2 separate regions of the Homo sapiens genome follow, and region 2 is linked to region 1. The links come from fine-mapping of genetic effects on gene expression. Tissue or cell type: whole blood. Region 1 holds a variant in brackets; the other region holds the start of a gene. All regions are shown on one strand. Distances are between the middles of the regions.

Region 1 (8,104 bases):
AAGATTGCTCCACTGCACTCCACCCTGAGCAACAGAGCAAGACTCCGTCTCAAGAAAACAAAAACAAAACCAAAAACAAACAAACAAAAAACCCAAAAATTAGCCGGGCGTGGTGGCAGGTGCCTGTAATCCCAGCTACTTGTGAGGCTGAGGCAGGAGAATCACTTGAACCCAGGAAGCGGAGGTTGCAGTGAGCCAACATTGCGCCACTGCACTCCAGGCTGAGCAACAAAGTGAGACTCCACCTTGAAAAAAAATACAGAATGAATTAGGGTTTTCAATGCAGCACTGAAGTCCTCCAAGTCCGTCAAATGGTTAAATAAATTTGATGGAATGAATTCAGCAGAGACCTGAACAGGGACCAGAAGCGACCATGAGAACATGAGCACTCTAGTGCTCTTGACCTTGAGAATCCACAGGGAATACACTTGGGGTTCAAGTCAGTCTTTTTAGAATCCAAGGGGCAGAGAGATCCCAAATAGCATCTGGGCACATGTAAACATTGAAGTAGATTTTTATGTTCTAACAAAGAAAGATGGCGATAAGGGCCAGGCACGGTGGCTGACACCTGTAATCCCAGCACTTTGGGAGGCCGAGGCGGGTGGATTACCTGAGGTCAGGCATTCGAGACCAGCCTGGCCAACATTGCAAAACCCTATCTCTACTAAAAAATGCAAAAATTAGCCAGGCATGGTGGCACGTGCCTGTAGTCCCAACTACTCAGGAGGCTGAGGAAGGAGAATCGCTTGAATCCTGGAGGCAGAGGTTGCAGTGAGCCGAGATTGTGCCACTGCACTTCAGCCTGGGTGACAGAGCAAGACTCTGTCTCAAAAAAAAAAAAAAAAAGAGAAAGAAAGATGGCCGTAGTACACTACTAAGTTTCGGGTGTAGGGGTTAGTCATCGAATATTGTTAAGGTGGGTCCTATTTCCATTTGAAATGTAAATATCATGTACATGACAACAGATTCTTTCATATAGATTCAAGATCAAAACGGCATACCTGCTAAGATAGACTGTTGACTCCAGGGGTTTCTTTTTTTATTTATTTTTATTTTTTATTTTTGAGACGGAGTCTTGCTCTATCATCCAGGCTGGAGTGCAGTGGCGCGATCTCTGCTCACTTCAAGCTCCACCTCCCCGGTTCACACCATTCTCCTGCCTTAGCCTCCCGAGTAGCTGGGACTACAGACGCCCGCCACCACACCCAGCTAATTTTTTTCTTTGTTTTTTTTTTTGTTTTGTTTTTGTTTTTTTTTTTGAGGCAGAGTCTCACTCTGTCGCCCAGGCTGGAGTGCAATGGCTTGGCTCACTGCAAGCGCCGCCTCCTGGGTTCACGCCATTCTCCTGCCTCAGCCTCCCAAGTAGCTGGGACTACAGGCGCCCGCCACTACGCCCGGCTAATTTTTCGTATTTTTAGTAGAGTCGGGGTTTCACCGTGTTAATCAGAATGGTCTCGATCTCCTGACCTTGTGGTCCGCCCGCCTCGGCCTCCCAAAGTGCTGGGATTACAGGCGTGAGCCACCGCGCCCAGCCTCTTTGTATTTTTTAGTAGAGACGGGGTTTCAACCTGTTAGCCAGGATGGTCTTGATCTCCTGACCTCATCATCCGCCCGCCTCGGCCTCCCAAAGTGCTGGGATTACAGGCGTGAGCCACCGCACCTGGCCTACTCCAGGGGTTTCTATCAATACCATAAAAAACCTTTTCCCTTTGACATACTCTGAATTTTGTTGTTTGGGGGCTGGGTGTGTGTGTGTGTGTGTGTGTGTGTGTGTGTGTGTGTGTGTATGTGTATGTGCAGTGTCCATCTGTATCAGTGCCAGTGCCTGCTACATTCCTGGTTCTGTATTGAGGAGAAGGATGTATAAAGAACCATGAAATATTAGCCCTCACTTTGTTTTGAATTCTGAGTAATGTTAATTTTTCTTTTCTTTCTTTTTTTTTTTTTTTTTGAGACAGTCTTGTCTGTCGCCCAGGCTGGAGTGCAGTGGCATGATCTCGGCTCACTGCAAGCTCCGCTTCCCAGGTTCACGCCATTCTCCTGCCTCAGCCTCCCGAGTAGCTGGGACTACAGGTGCCCGCCACTATGCCCGGCTAATTTTTTTTTTTATATATTTTTTAGTAGAGACGGGGTTTCACCGTGTTAGCCAGGATGGTCTCGATCTCCTGACCTTGTGATCCACCCGCCTCGGCCTCTCAAAGTGCTGGGATTACAGGCATGAGCCACTGCGCCCGGCCGAGTAATGTTAATTTTTCTCGAAACTGAATTTTCTTAAAAGAATTTTTTTTCTTTTAGATTTAATGAGGTATTGCTAACTGAAGCCAGTTTGACATAGTGAGAGAGATGTCAAATTGATTTGAAAGGTGTGCAGCCTGATTTAAAACTAAACCCTGAATCCTTTTAAAGAACAATAAAACATATTTTACATGCAAAAAAATCATGTATATATGTTAGTATATGCATAGGAAAAACTAGAAAGAAGAGTGTTAGCCAAGCCATCCAATGTCTTACTTCTCTGTATGTTCTCAGCACCTTCTCAGTTAGATGCTGAGAACATACAGAGAAATAAGAAGTTTTAATGTAAATTCCACGAAGAAAGAGAACTTTTGTTTTGTTCTCTGTTATGTTCCCAGTGTCTGACACATGATATCTACTTGGTAAATATTTATGGGCTGGAAGGGAGAAGGAAGGAAGGGAGGATGAGAGGAGGGAGGGAGCGGTAGAAAAGAGTCCTGGCCCCCAAGTTGTTCACTGTTATTCACAGCCAGGCTTGGAAACAGATGTGTGGGCAGAGTGCAAAGAACATTGGGAGAAAAGGGCTCTGAGTTGGTAGGGACTTTGCATAAACTCTCTCTCGTCCTTATGTTAGCGTCCTCCTTTCCTCAGAAGAGAAGTCATTTGCAAAGTCATCAGGCATGAAGCCCATCTTCAAATTCAAGGCTTAGCGGGCATGGTGGTTCAGGCCTATAACCTCAGCATTTTGGGGGGCTGCAGCAAGAGGATTGCTTGAGCCCATGAGTTCGAGACCAGTCTGGGCAACATAATAAGACCCTATCTCTTAGAAAAAAATTAATTAGGCTAGGCGTGGTGGCTCATGCCTGTAATCCCAGCACCTTGGGAGGCTGAGGTGGGCAGATCACCTGAGGTCAGGAGTTCAAGACAAGCCCAGCCAACAGGACGAAACCCCATCACTACTACTAAAAATATAAAAATTAGCCAGGGGTGGTGGCAGGTGTCTGTAATCCCACCTACTCAGTAGGCTGAGGCAGGAGAATCCCTTGAACCCGGGAGGTGGCTACAATGAGCCAAGATCATGCCACTGCACTGCAGCCTGGGTGACAGAGCGAGACTCCATCTCGGAAAAAATAAAACATAAAAAATAATAATTAAAAAACAAATTCAAGGCTTATGTGGTTGCAGAGAACACTCTTCTTTGAGGACAAATGAGAACCAGATATTCCTGTTAAGTCGGGGGCACAAGTGTTGGCAATGAATATACTGTATCTCCAAAGCAGATAGATCTTAGACAACCAGAATCTCTGGGGAAAGGCCGCATTCATCAACCTCTGGGGGAAACTGGCTTCAAGTGACTCAAAGGTGACACCCAATGTCGCTCTGGGTAACTACACAGAAATCCTAAACGGTGTTAAAGAAGAGGGAGCAAGGCTGCCCTTTACTTCCAATGCTGTCCAGCCAGCTCCATAAGGCTCTGAGAGGCTGGCTCAGGTGAGCCAGGGCTCAAGTGAGGAGACTGGCCAGGGCTTGGCTAAAAGAGCCTGTCACTCAAAAGTAAGCCCAAAGCAAGATAAGCTGCATTCTCAGGGCTGCTGTATATTTTCTCAGCCTGAATAAGCTGCTGCTGATTTAGTTATCCGGGTTCTTCTCGGATTCCTGTGGCTGCATTTGAATAGCAGAAATCCTGGCAAGAGGAGATGAAGATCTGGGCTAAAAACTTCACTGAGGCTAACATCTCAGGAGGACCCTGGTGTCACATGAGCCTGGGTGGGAATCTGCTTTGCCTCCTACCAGCTATGTAGCGCTGGTCACACAACTTCACCTTGCTAAGCCTCAGTTTCTTGCTTTTTAAATGGAGATGATGATACCTATTTTGCAAGGTTGCTGAGTTGATTGCATGAGATCACCGACGTGCACAGTAATAAAATAGAAAAGGCTTCGCAAGTATTGCTGTCATTACTACTGTGGCTGACATTTACTAAGCCCTTACCAAAGCCTTTCTCTCTCTTTTTCTTTTTTTGAGACAGGGTCTAGCTCTGTTGCCCAGGCTGGAGTAGAGTGGCCCGATCACAGCATCATGGCTCACAGCAGCCTCAACCTCCTGGGCTCAAGCAATCCTCCCATCTCAGCCGCCTCCCTTACAAGAAGCTGGGATTACAGGCATGCGGCAGGCACCACACCCAGCTAATTTTCAAATTTTTTGTAGAGACAGTGTCTTGCTATGTTGCCCAGGCTGGTCTCCAAGTCCTGGCCTCAAGCAATCCACCCACTTCAGCCTCCCGAAGTGCTAGGATTACCGACATGAGCCACCACACCCAACAAATCACTGCCTTTTTCAATGCTCACAGCAAACCTCTGAAGTAGCTAATATTTCTTTTCTTTCTTTTTTTTTTTTTTTTTTTTTTTTTTTGAGACGGAGTCTCGCTCTGTCACCCAGGCTGGAGTGCAGTGGCGGGATCTCGGCTCACTGCAAGCTCTGCCTCCCGGGTTCACGCCATTCTCCTGCCTCAGCCTCCCAAGTAGCTGGGACTACAGGCGCCCGCCACTACGCCCGGCTAATTTTTTTGTATTTTTAGTAGAGA[C/T]GGGGTTTCACCGTTTTAGCCGGGATGGTCTCGATCTCCTGACCTCGTGATCCATCCGCCTCGGGCTCCCAAAGTGCTGGGATTACAGGTGTGAGCCACTGCGCCCAGTAAGTTTCCATTTTACACACTCCACAGTCTGTATTTCCTATGAATTGGTACTTGGATCTACAGACTTGTTTGTATTTATGTTCAGTCTTTTTGCCAAAAAATATTTCAAAAATGGTGTTGAGCGTGCTTTCCTCACAGACGCACAATGACCAATTGTCTCTTTGTGGTATCGGCAGCCATTGGTGCTTGATGACAGGATCCACAGTTCATTAGGAGTGCTTCTTTATTTCTGTTTGGTGAGGTGACCAGGTCACCAACCCTTCCCAGTTCACCTGGAACTTCCCCCGTTTTGGCACCTTCAGTCCCATGGCCCAGGAAACCACTCAGTCCCAGGACAGCTGGTCACCCTGCAGGAAAGCCATGTTTTAGGCAGTGACTCTTCCCACCCCCACTCTGCCTCCCTTTGCCATAGTGGGCAGAGAAGTAGGAGACAGGATGTGGATAACGGGCTGGAGAATGCAGGGGGAGGGGTCTGTATCTAGTGGCCAGTCTTGGGTGTAATTGACACCTTAGTAGTTGTCCACCTAGTATCCGCTTTCACCTTCTTGCAATCCCCTGATTTTTTGATTAGGTAATGGTCCCTACCCACAGCCCACATGCTTCACGGGCACTGATGCTAGCCCCAGCTTCCATGACCAGCTGCTCCCTTCCAGAACCCAGGACGAAGCCGGTCAGTGCAAGCCAGTCCCCATGCCACACCTTGGGCCAATAAATCACAAGGGGTAATTTGTCAGAGGCATTTGGGAAAACATTTCCTTATTCTTTTTTTAAAAAATTATATTTACTTTTATTTTTTTCATCTAGAATTTCTGATGAAGATCACTCTTTAAAATATGTATATGTGGCCAGGAGCGGTGGCTCACGCCTGTAATCCCAGCATTTTGGGAGGCCGAGGTGGGCAGATCACGAGGTCAGGAGATTGAGACCCTCCTGGCTAATACGGTGAAACCCCGTCTCTACTAAAAGTACAAAAAATTAGCGGGGCGTGGCATCGTGCGCCTGTAGTCCTAGCTACTCGGGAGGCTGAGGCAGGAGAATGGCGTGAACCTGGGAGGTGGAGCTTGCAGTGAGCCGAGATCGCGCCACTGCACTCCAGCCTGGGCGACAGAGCGAGACTCCATCTCTCAAAAATAAATAATAAATAAATAAATATATATATATATAAATAAATAAATAAATAAATAAATAAAATATGTGTATGTACCTATGTACACACACACACACACCATTCAACCATTGGCTGGGCATGGTGGCTCACACCTTCCAGCAGTTTGGGAGGCTGAGGCAGGAGGATATCCTGAGCCCAGGAGTTTGAGACCTGCCTGAGCATCATAGTGAGACTCCATCAGAACAAAAAAAATTGTTTAATTAAAATATATATAATTGAATTTTATTTTATATATTATATATATGTTTATATATATACCATATATATATATATATATAATTCAAATAGTTGAATTTAGGCTGGTCAAGGTGGGTCACACCTGTAATCCCAGCACTTTGGGAGATTGAGGCAGGTGGATCACACCTCAGGTCAGGAGTTCGAGATCAGCCTGGCCAACATGATGAAACCCCATCTCTACTAAAAATACAAAAATTAGCCGGGTGTGGTGGCGGGCGCCTGTAATCTCAGCTACTCAGGAGGCGAGTTTATGTTACTTTGTGTAAACATATGCTTTCATTCCTCTCAGTCAGAGATACCTACGAATAAGATTGCTGGATCAATTTATCTTTACATTTTTATTAAACTTTCCAACTGCTTTCCAAAGTGGCAGGCCCCATTTTACTTTCCTACCGGCAATGTGGGAGAGTTTCTGTTTCTCCATAGCCTCACCACTTATTATTCTCTTTTTGAGTATTAGTCATCCTAGTGGATATGAAGTAGTATCTCATTATGCATTGCTTTTCTTAAAGATATGGTCTCACTCCGTTGCCCAGGCTGGAGTACAGTGGCACAATCATAGCTCACAGTAGCCTCAAACTTCTGGGCTAAAACTATCCCCCCACCTCAGCCTCAGCCTCCTTAGTGGCTAGGACTAAAGGCACACACCACTGCGCCTGGCTAATTTTTTACCTTTTTTTTTTTTTTTTTTTTTTTGAGATAGAGTTTAGCTTTTATTGCCCAGGCTGGAGTGCAACGGTACGATCTCGGCTCACCACAACCTCCACCTCCCGGGTTCAAGCAATTCTCCTGCCTCAGCCTCCCAAGTAGCTGGGATTATAGGCATGTGCCACCATGCCTGGCTAATTTTGCATTTTTAGTAGAGACAGGGTTTCTACATGTTGGTCAGGCTGGTCTTGAACTCCTGACCTCAGGCGATCTGCCCGCTCTGGCCTCCCAAAGTGCTGGGATTACAGGTATAAGCCACCATGCCCAGCTCTCTGGGTTCTTTCCTTCCTTCCTTCCTTTCTTTCTTTCTTCTTTCATTCTTTCTTTTTTTCTTTTCTTTTTTTTTTTTTTGTAGAAGCCACAGGAAGAAACAAATCATGAGGGGATGGTTTGACAAGCTACAAACACTGGAGTCATAATATACCTGTATTTAACTTGGTAAATCCAACTATGCATGTTTGAATGTGAGAGAGACAGAGAAAGAAAGAGACAGAAATGAGACAGACAGAAAGAATAATGCTTTAAATAATGCAGGGGTTTCTGCCTTCCACTCTGTAAGAACATAGAACCCATGGGCTGAATAGAAGGAGGAGAGGGCACAGCTGTCCTTCCCTCAGCCTGTCTTAATCCAGGGCCTTCACATTCCCTATGCTCAGCATGACTCCAGCATTTTGTTTTTGTTTTTGTTTTTTTTTTAAGACAGAGTCTCACTCTGTCACCCAGGCTGGATTGCACTGGCACGATTTCAGCTCAGTGAAGCATCCACCTCCCGGGTTCAAGCGTTTCTCCTGCTTCAGCCTCCTGAGTAGCTAGGACTACAGGGACGTACCACCACACCTGGCTAATTTTTTTTGTATTTTTAGTAGAGATGGGGGTTTTACCTTCGTGGTCAGCCTGGTCTCAAATTCCTGGCCTCAAGTGATCCACCCACCCCAGCCTCCCAAAGTGCTGAGATTACAGGTGTGAGTTACTGCACCCTGCTTATTTATTTTTGAAACACGGTCTCACTATGTTGCCCAGGCTGGACTGCAGTGGTGCCATCAGAGCTCACTGCAGCCTCGAACTC
Region 2 (8,104 bases), 33 kb after region 1:
ACGGAGTCTTGCTCTGTTGCCCAGGCTAGAGTGTGGTGGAGCACTTGGCTCACTACAACCTCTGCCTCCCATGTTCGAGCGATTCTCCTGCCTTCAGCTTCCTGAGTAGCTGGGAATACAGGCACCCACCACCACAACCGGCTAATTTTTGTATTTTTTTGGTAGAGACAGGGTTTCACCATGTTGGCCAGGCTGGTCTCAAACTCCTGACCTCAGGTGATTCGCCTGCCTCGGCCTCCCAAAGTGCTGGGATTACAGGCATGAGCCACCGTGTTTGCCCTGTTTCCTTGAGTTCTGTGAGCCACTCTGGCAAATTCCCTGAACCCATGGAGGGGGTCATGGGAACCCCCAATTCATAGCCAGTTGGTCAGAAGCACAGGTCACAATGTGGAACCTGTTATTGGCATTGGAAGTGGGGGCAGTCTTGTGGGACTGATCCCTTAACTTGTGGGATCTGTCCTAACTCTGGTTAATGTCAGAATTGAGTGAAATGATTGCTTATCCTGTTGGTGTCTGTTGAAGAATTGGTTGGTGGTGGGTAGAAACTCCCTCACTTACTGGTGGAGTACAACTGGCCCTTAAACAATGTGAGCCTGAACTGCGAGGGTCCCACTTACACATGGATTTTTTTTTTCAATCAAATGAGGATCAAAAAGACGGGATTCTCAGGATGCAGGAACTCAAGTGTAGGGAGGGCTGACCTTTCATACACACAGTATAGATTGTGGGATTTTAGTATGGTTGGATTTTTGTATCTGAAGGGCTCCTGGAACTAATCCCCTTCCTCTACCCAGAGAGGACTGTACTCTGTGTTGAGCGGTGACTTGTGTGTGAGAGTAGGAAAAACTCTGATTTTTCCTAAGTTTTCTAAATTATTAGTCCTGGGGTGGGGTGTGGTGGCTCATGCCTGTAATCCTAGCACGTTGGGAGGCTGAGGCAGGAGGATCACTTGAGGTCAGTAGTTCCAGATCAGCCTGGGCAATATGGTGAAACCCTGTCTCTACTAAAAATAGAAAAATTACCAGGGGGTTGGGGAGGGGGGGTGGCGGGCACCTATAATCCCAGCTACTCAGGAGGCTGAGGCAGGAGAATTGCTTGAACTTGGGAGGTAGAGGTTGCAGTGCGTGAAGATTGCTCCACTGCACTCCAGCCTGGGCAACAGAGCAAGACTCCATCTCAAAAAATAAAATTAAATTAAATTAAAATAGCTAAGTGCGGTGGCTCACATCTGTAATCCTAGCACTTTAGGAGCCCAAGGCAGGCAGATCACTTGAGATCAGGAGTTTGAAACCAGCCTGGCCAACAAGGTGAAACCCTGTCTCTACTAAAAAAAAATACAGGCCAGGCGTGGTGGCTCACGCCTGTAATCCCAACAGTTTGGGAGGCCAAGGAGGGCAGATCACAAGGTCAAGAAATTGAGACCATCCTGGCCAACATGGTGAAACCCCGTCTCTGTTAAAAATACAAAAATTAGCTGGGCGTGGTGGTGCACACCTGTAATCCCAGCTACTCAGGAGGCTGAGGTGGGAGAATCGCTTGAACCTGGGAGGTGGAAGTTGCAGTGAGCTGAGATCATACCACTGCACTCTAGCCTGGGCGACAGAGCGAGACTCTGTCTCAAGAGTCTCAAGTTATTTAAAAAATAAATAAATAAATAAAATTATTAGCCCTATGTGTCAGCAGTCTTAAATGAGTATCAAAGGACAGTATCATCCCAGCTAAATTGATTAAGCACCTTTTATACACCGGGCATTACACTAGGCAGTGGAAATGTAAAGAAGATTAAGGTAAGACCCTGCCCTCAAGTCGCACAACTTACACACAACTTAGCACAACTAACAAGAAAGACTTTTCCCTTTTCCGCTGGAGCTCTGTTTGGCAGGTCAAAGCTTTGGAAAACCAATGGAGTGGATTTTTTCCTGAATATCCATAATTATCCTATTCAGAGACAAGGAAATTAATGACATCAACTGCTTTTCTAAGCAGCAGTCTGAGCAGTTTCTGCCTTTGTCCCTAGAAAAAGTACCAGGCAGAAGGAAACTCTGCTAATTCAATTAGATGTGAAGAACTAACCTATGAGAAAGTGATCATTCAGTGCTGTAGGAGTGCTACATGGAGGAGAGTAGTATTCAAAGACAAAATGCTTAGAGAAGGATGTGTAGTTCATTATTTGAGTCAGCTGATTGTGTTGACATTTTCTTAGGGGTGGGTGGGTGGGGAGTGAAAATCTGGAAAGAGAAGGCATTTCATTTAGAACACATTGTATTTTTTCTTGTGAATATAAGATGAAAATCTTTTATTCAATAGCAATACAGGTCTCGCATAAATGAAGTTCTAATTTTCATAACAGTTGTTAAGTTCTCTGTAAATCTGACAGTCACTTAATACCAACTTTAAAATGGACATTGTTAAGTATGATTCAGTGAGGTCTTCAGGTATAATAATAGGCTATAACCAAAACTTCCTATTAAGCAGAGGCAAACTCTGCCGGGTGTGGTGGCTCACACCGATAAGCCCAGCACTTTGGGAAGCTGAGGCAGGTGGATCGCTTTTTTTGTTTGTTTTTTGAGACAGAGTCTCGCTTTGTCGCTCAAGCTGGAGTGCAGTGGCGCGATCTCGGCTCACTGCAGGCTCCGCCTCCTGGTTTCACGCCATTCTCCTGCCTCAGCCTCCTGAGTAGCTGGCAATACAGACGCCCGCACACCACGCCCGGCTAATTTTTTGTATTTTCAGTAGAGACAGGGTTTCACCGTGTTAGCCAGGATGGTCTCAATCTCCTGATCTCGTGATCCGCCCACCTTGGCCTCCCAAAGTGCTGGGATTACAGGCGTGAGCCACCGCGCCCGGCCTAACTTGTATTTTTAGTAGAGACGGGGGTTCCACCACGTTGGCCAGGCTGGTCTCGAACTCCTGACCTCACGTGATCCATCTGCCTCGGCCTCCCAAATTGCTGAGATTACAGGTGTGAGCCACTGCGCCTGGCCGGTATGTGTTTTTTTAATCCCTAAAGCTTGGTAGTTTAATATTAAATTCAAATTACTGTAGCCTAGGACTCTTTTGAAAAATACTTGACAGCTTCGTTTTTGACCTATCTCATTAGGCTGAGTTCTCTTTTATCTTTACAATACAGATGTTTAAAATTAAAATACAGATCGGCCGGGCGCGGTGGCTCACGCCTGTAATCCCAGCACTTTGGGAGGCCGAGACGAGCGGATCACGAGGTCAGGAGATCCAGACCATCCTGTCTAACACGGTGTAAACCTCGTCTCTAATAACAATACAAAAAAAATTAGCCGGGCGTGATGGCGGGCGCCTCTAGTCCCAGCTACTCCGGAGACTGAGGCAGGAGAATGTTGTGAACCCGGGAGGCGGGCTTGCAGCGAGCCGACATCGCGCCACTGCACTCCAGCCTGGGCTACAGAGCAAGACTCCGTCTCAAAAAAAAGAAAAAAGAAAATTAAAATACAGATCTAGATCTGGATTTTGTTAGGTTTTTTTTTTTTTTAACAACCTAAGGTTGTTCAGAAACATCTATTCTATGTATGTGCTTCTTTAGTCTGTAATTTCTAGGCAGATTAGTTGCACCCTGTCTAGACTCCTTTCAGAAAAATACTAACAATATGTTTTTCTCTGTCTTGGGCTCCACATGGGTGAATTACAGGAAAGCTTAACAGGTACTCAGAGCAACATTTTTTCCTACTTCATGAAGGGCCTAAATGCGAACTCTTAAGTATTTCTCGTTTGCTTTTGTTCTTTTCCCAGGTTTACCTAATCTGTAAGTGTAAGATGCAGTCGATGAAAAGTACTATGGGAATTCTTGAGCAAATCAGACCATTCAAAAGGAAACCACTTCACGTAATGGTGCATAAGGAAGCTAGACTCACCAAAATAACCCTGTTAGGTAAGCCGGATACACCATGGAATACGGCAATCCTCTGTTTAATTTGCAAACCCTTTGGCGGGGAGGAGGAAAGGATGGAAAAATTTGGGTGAAGGCTTTATATGACTAGTCAAACAAACGGTGAGTCATTGAAATTTTCCAGTTAACAATCCCTTCTGCCTGGGCAGAGCCTGGGCCCCAGCGCTTTATGAGCCACACTGCAGTTTTAAGCCGGAATATCTCACGGTTTTATTGTTTCTTCCACGAAATGATTACATAAAATGAAATCAGCTTTGCAATCTGCACCGGCTTTGAAATGAAGGGCAAAATCTGGCTGGGGGTGAGGAGAAAGAAGGTGGAGAGAGAATAAGGTACGGAGACTGTGAGGCAGAGAACGCAGGAAAGGTGGTGAAAAGAGAGTACAAGAATTTTCGGGAGCTGAGTGTATTTTTCTTCCCCATGTTATAGATGCTGTCCGTTTTCCCCCAGCCTGTGTCCAGCAGGCCAGAGTGGACCCCTCCTATGGGCTAAAATACTCTCGGTCTTCGGCCCAGCACAGAGCTGCACCAACCAGGGCCTGCCGCTGCCCCCCCACCAGGTGACAGGTGGGGCCGCCGAGCGGCCACCAGACCTCCGCCTCCTCGCGTTGCCTGCCGGGAGCCGGAGCCGCTTCCGGTTGCGCCCTGTCCCTGAACTTCGACTCCCGTCGGCCCCCGGGAAAACCGCAGCGGGGTAGCGCGGGCGCTGCCGGAACTTGTAGTTCCACCTCCCGCCGCGCTAAATAGCCGGAAACGGGGGCGGCCAGAACAGAGAACTACCGAGGCGAAGGTACGGGTGGCGGCGAGGGGTCAATCCGCGCCGGGGGTGGGGTTGGCTGTGAGGCCGTCGGAGGTGGTTGGGTGGGAGGAGATCCGCTCACACACACGAGGAGGAGGGTTGAGCTGCCGCCGCCGCCGCCTCTGTCGTCGTCGCGAGTGTGGAGTCGGGACTGGAGCTGCTGCCGCGGCGACGCCGGGGATCTTTGTCGCTAGCTCCCGGCCCTTCTGCCCCGCCGCCTTCCCTCAGTCAGCGTTGCCCACTCCTCTCCGGCCGGGCGCCCCTGCCTCCATTTCCCGCTCTCTGTCCACCACACACACGGCCCCCCCGATCATGGATCCGGGCAGTGGCGGCGGCGGCGGCGGCGGCGGCGGCGGCGGGAGCAGCAGCGGCAGCAGCAGCAGCGACTCGGCGCCTGACTGCTGGGACCAGGCGGACATGGAAGCCCCCGGGCCGGGCCCTTGCGGCGGCGGCGGCTCCCTGGCGGCGGCGGCCGAGGCCCAGCGGGAGAACCTCAGCGCGGCCTTCAGCCGGCAACTCAACGTCAACGCCAAGCCCTTCGTGCCCAACGTCCACGCCGCCGAGTTCGTGCCGTCCTTCCTGCGGGGCCCGGCAGCGCCGCCACCCCCAGTTGGCGGCGCCGCCAATAACCACGGAGCCGGCAGCGGCGCGGGAGGCCGTGCGGGTAAAGGCCCGGGACGCGGGAGGAAGTCCGGCCGGGCGCCGGAGCCCACATGGCGTAGGGGTGCGGTCCGGGGGCGCGCGGCCCTGGGGCCCGGTCGGCACGTGGGGCGCTGACAGTGGCGCCGTCTGCCTGGGTGGGGCGCCCCGAGCCCGGGAGCCGGCCTTCGCGGGGCGGCCCGCGGCGGTGGCCGGGCGGGGAGCGGACAGCGGGCAGCGCGCCCAAAGACCCGGACCCGAGTGCCGCCCCTCCGCGCCCCTGCCCTGCTCTGGAGTCCGCAGTTACCCACTTGAGATGGGAACCGTATGGAACGGAGTGGGGGCCGCGGCGGATCCCTGCCACGAGGCGCAGAATGAGGACAGATGGAGCCAGGAGTCATTTGGGTGGGCGTTTAGAGATCCCAGGAGTTGGGGAGGACGAATGGCCGAGTTTTCCTTTCACCTTAGGCCCAGCCGAGAGAGCGTCTTCTGCTGCGTTTTCTACTATTGAAACTGTAATTACGGTTTAAACTGTCCGTGGCCCCCAACCGTCCTGAAGGAATCCCAAGATGCATTGCAGCCTTGTGATCGGGCAGAAACTTGGCTATCAATACCAAGATCTGTTTTACCCTTAGCATTGTGTACGCTTCTAAAGTTTACAAAGTGCCACAAAGTTAGGATTCCTCACTTAATGTGTGATAGGAGACTATATTGATTTGTGTCTTTTTAAAGTGAAGCTTACACTTTTATCCTTTGTCAGCGACACGTTTAGAGAATTTTCATTGCTGTAAAATCGTTGACCTTATTCAGATTGCTTGGAATAACTCACTGTGTTCGTGCATCAGTAGTTCAGTCTATTTCTTCAGACACTTGAGCATTTGTTATAATTTAATAGTTCTCACGTGTCTTTCTGACCGTAGCTAGTAGACATACATTTTCTAATCCATAAAATTTCGAGTTAACTTTGGTTTTTAAACATCTTCCCGTACTTAGGGGTTGCTTAAGTCGTAGGTAGCATGCTTGCAGGTGCTGACGTTGTAGGAATATCCGGTGAGTGAACTTATGTATTCTCATAATGGTGCTTATTTTGTGGTAGGTAGCTTGCTTTCAGGTACTGATTTTGTGGGAATGTCAAATGAGTGAACTTAAGTATTCTCTTCCTAATGGTGCTTATTTTAGGAACTATCAGTGTTTCCTTAAAGAGAAAATGAAAAAGGAAGGAAAAGGCTGAACGTCCTTTCATCATTTAGCCAGGACGTTAGTGGGGTGGGTCATGACATCCAGCGCATTTTAAGTGAGAACATATTGTTGATTTCTCTCTTTAAAGTTCTGTATTGTGGTGGTTCTTAGATAAGTGGACATTATAAAAGTGCTCCAGGAGTTTGGTTTCTACAGAAACTTTTGTCACCGTTTGCTCTTTCGTGGTAAAGGGATAGTGTCTGGAGAAACACTCTGATGACGTATGTACGTCAGCACGGTTGATTTGGTGGTTTTGTTGACAGTGGCATTTATTTGTGTGGGTGGTTGATGTTTTCTTTTGAGGAGATCGAGCACTTTCAGGGTGGTACGGCTCTAGACAATGTTTTCCTCTTGAATAAGGAAGCTTAGCTTGTAATTCTTGACTTACATCAAGCCATTTTGACTGCCTAACCTAGTTCACTTCTCAGCTCCTAAAAGTGCCCATTCCCTACCTTACTTTGCAGATTCCGTTTATCCAGCCATTTTCTTTCTTGGCTCTTCCTCCTTTCTGTGGAGCCACCAGCACCACTCTGACTAGACTCAGGACTCCATTTACAGCCTGTCCAGCGAGTCATCCGGGGATAACCAACCTTGGTCTAGAATGGTCACTGTTGGTGACTAGGTATTACCTCTTATGCGGGCTTTCTCTCTTCCTGATAGTTGCTAATTTGTAGTTACACCTAATCTTTTTCTCTTTGACAGTGCTAGAAATTGGAGATGCGAAAACCTGTAGGGAAGTAGCTGTCAGTAAGAGAATCCGTACAGCATGGTCAACTTTCTTGTTTTTAATCAAAAAACTATTTTGGTGTTACCGACTTTACCAATTGCTTGTACCAAAATGCCAGTTCATGTTTTTAAAAAATTATCCTATGTAGGATGTCTATTTGGAAAAGAACTGATTTTCTAAGTTGAGGTCCAGGGTTATATTGAGACTGTTGGATTGCATGTTCCAGACTATTAAGTCCATAAAAAGCCAGCATCGGAGAACAATCAGTGCTTATAAAAAGCAGGGGGATAAATAGGAAATAACACCTGGATTGGAACTTACAAAGGGGGAACCAAAAAGTTTGCAAGGTTTTTTTGATAGCGAGGAAGTGGACAATAGGGCTAGCATGTTCTGTTCTTTAGTTAAGCCATAGCCGAAATTTGTGCTGGGTGTGTTTTTAAACTGCATGCCGGGAAAGCTGTTGAAGGAGCCTGGAGAGTCAGACCTTGGGATTCAGTATTGACCTTGGATCTCTTTGAAAACTAAAGAATATAGGTTCCTTAAGAAATAATTAAGTGGAACCCATTTAAGTGTAATTAAGTGTAATTCATTTAAGCACAGTTCTCTAGAGCCAAGTAAATTGGCCAAGAGATTCTCCTTAAAAAGTGAGGTCCCCAAGTGAATAAAAATATAGAAGACAAGGCTTAATGTATATTAGAACAAGCATTTTATCTGATAGGATGTATTTAAGTTGCAATTTGCACCTAGTTTTTTTTATTGTTAGATAAGAAACTGGTTTAGTA

The links. PIP is the estimated chance that this variant, and not a neighbour inherited with it, causes the effect.
Region 2: GSPT1 starts here. The variant in region 1 is fine-mapped to the expression of GSPT1 in whole blood (TOPMed, PIP 0.91).

Annotation. Positions count from the first base shown.
Region 1 is chr16:11,945,308-11,953,411 of GRCh38, reverse strand. It overlaps a transcript of NPIPB2 not described here. Among named protein-coding and RNA genes, the nearest start is that of NPIPB2, 7.3 kb to the right of the region's middle. The variant C/T (reference allele first, on the strand shown) is at 4,818.
Region 2 is chr16:11,912,646-11,920,749 of GRCh38, reverse strand. It overlaps GSPT1 (G1 to S phase transition 1), which reads left to right and starts at 4,794. Exons shown (of 15, transcript NM_002094.4): 1 at 4,794-5,381. The coding sequence starts at 5,030. RefSeq lists enhancers at 2,854-3,354, 4,655-4,804, 4,413-5,350 and silencers at 4,405-4,464, 5,175-5,244, 5,335-5,574, 5,615-5,664.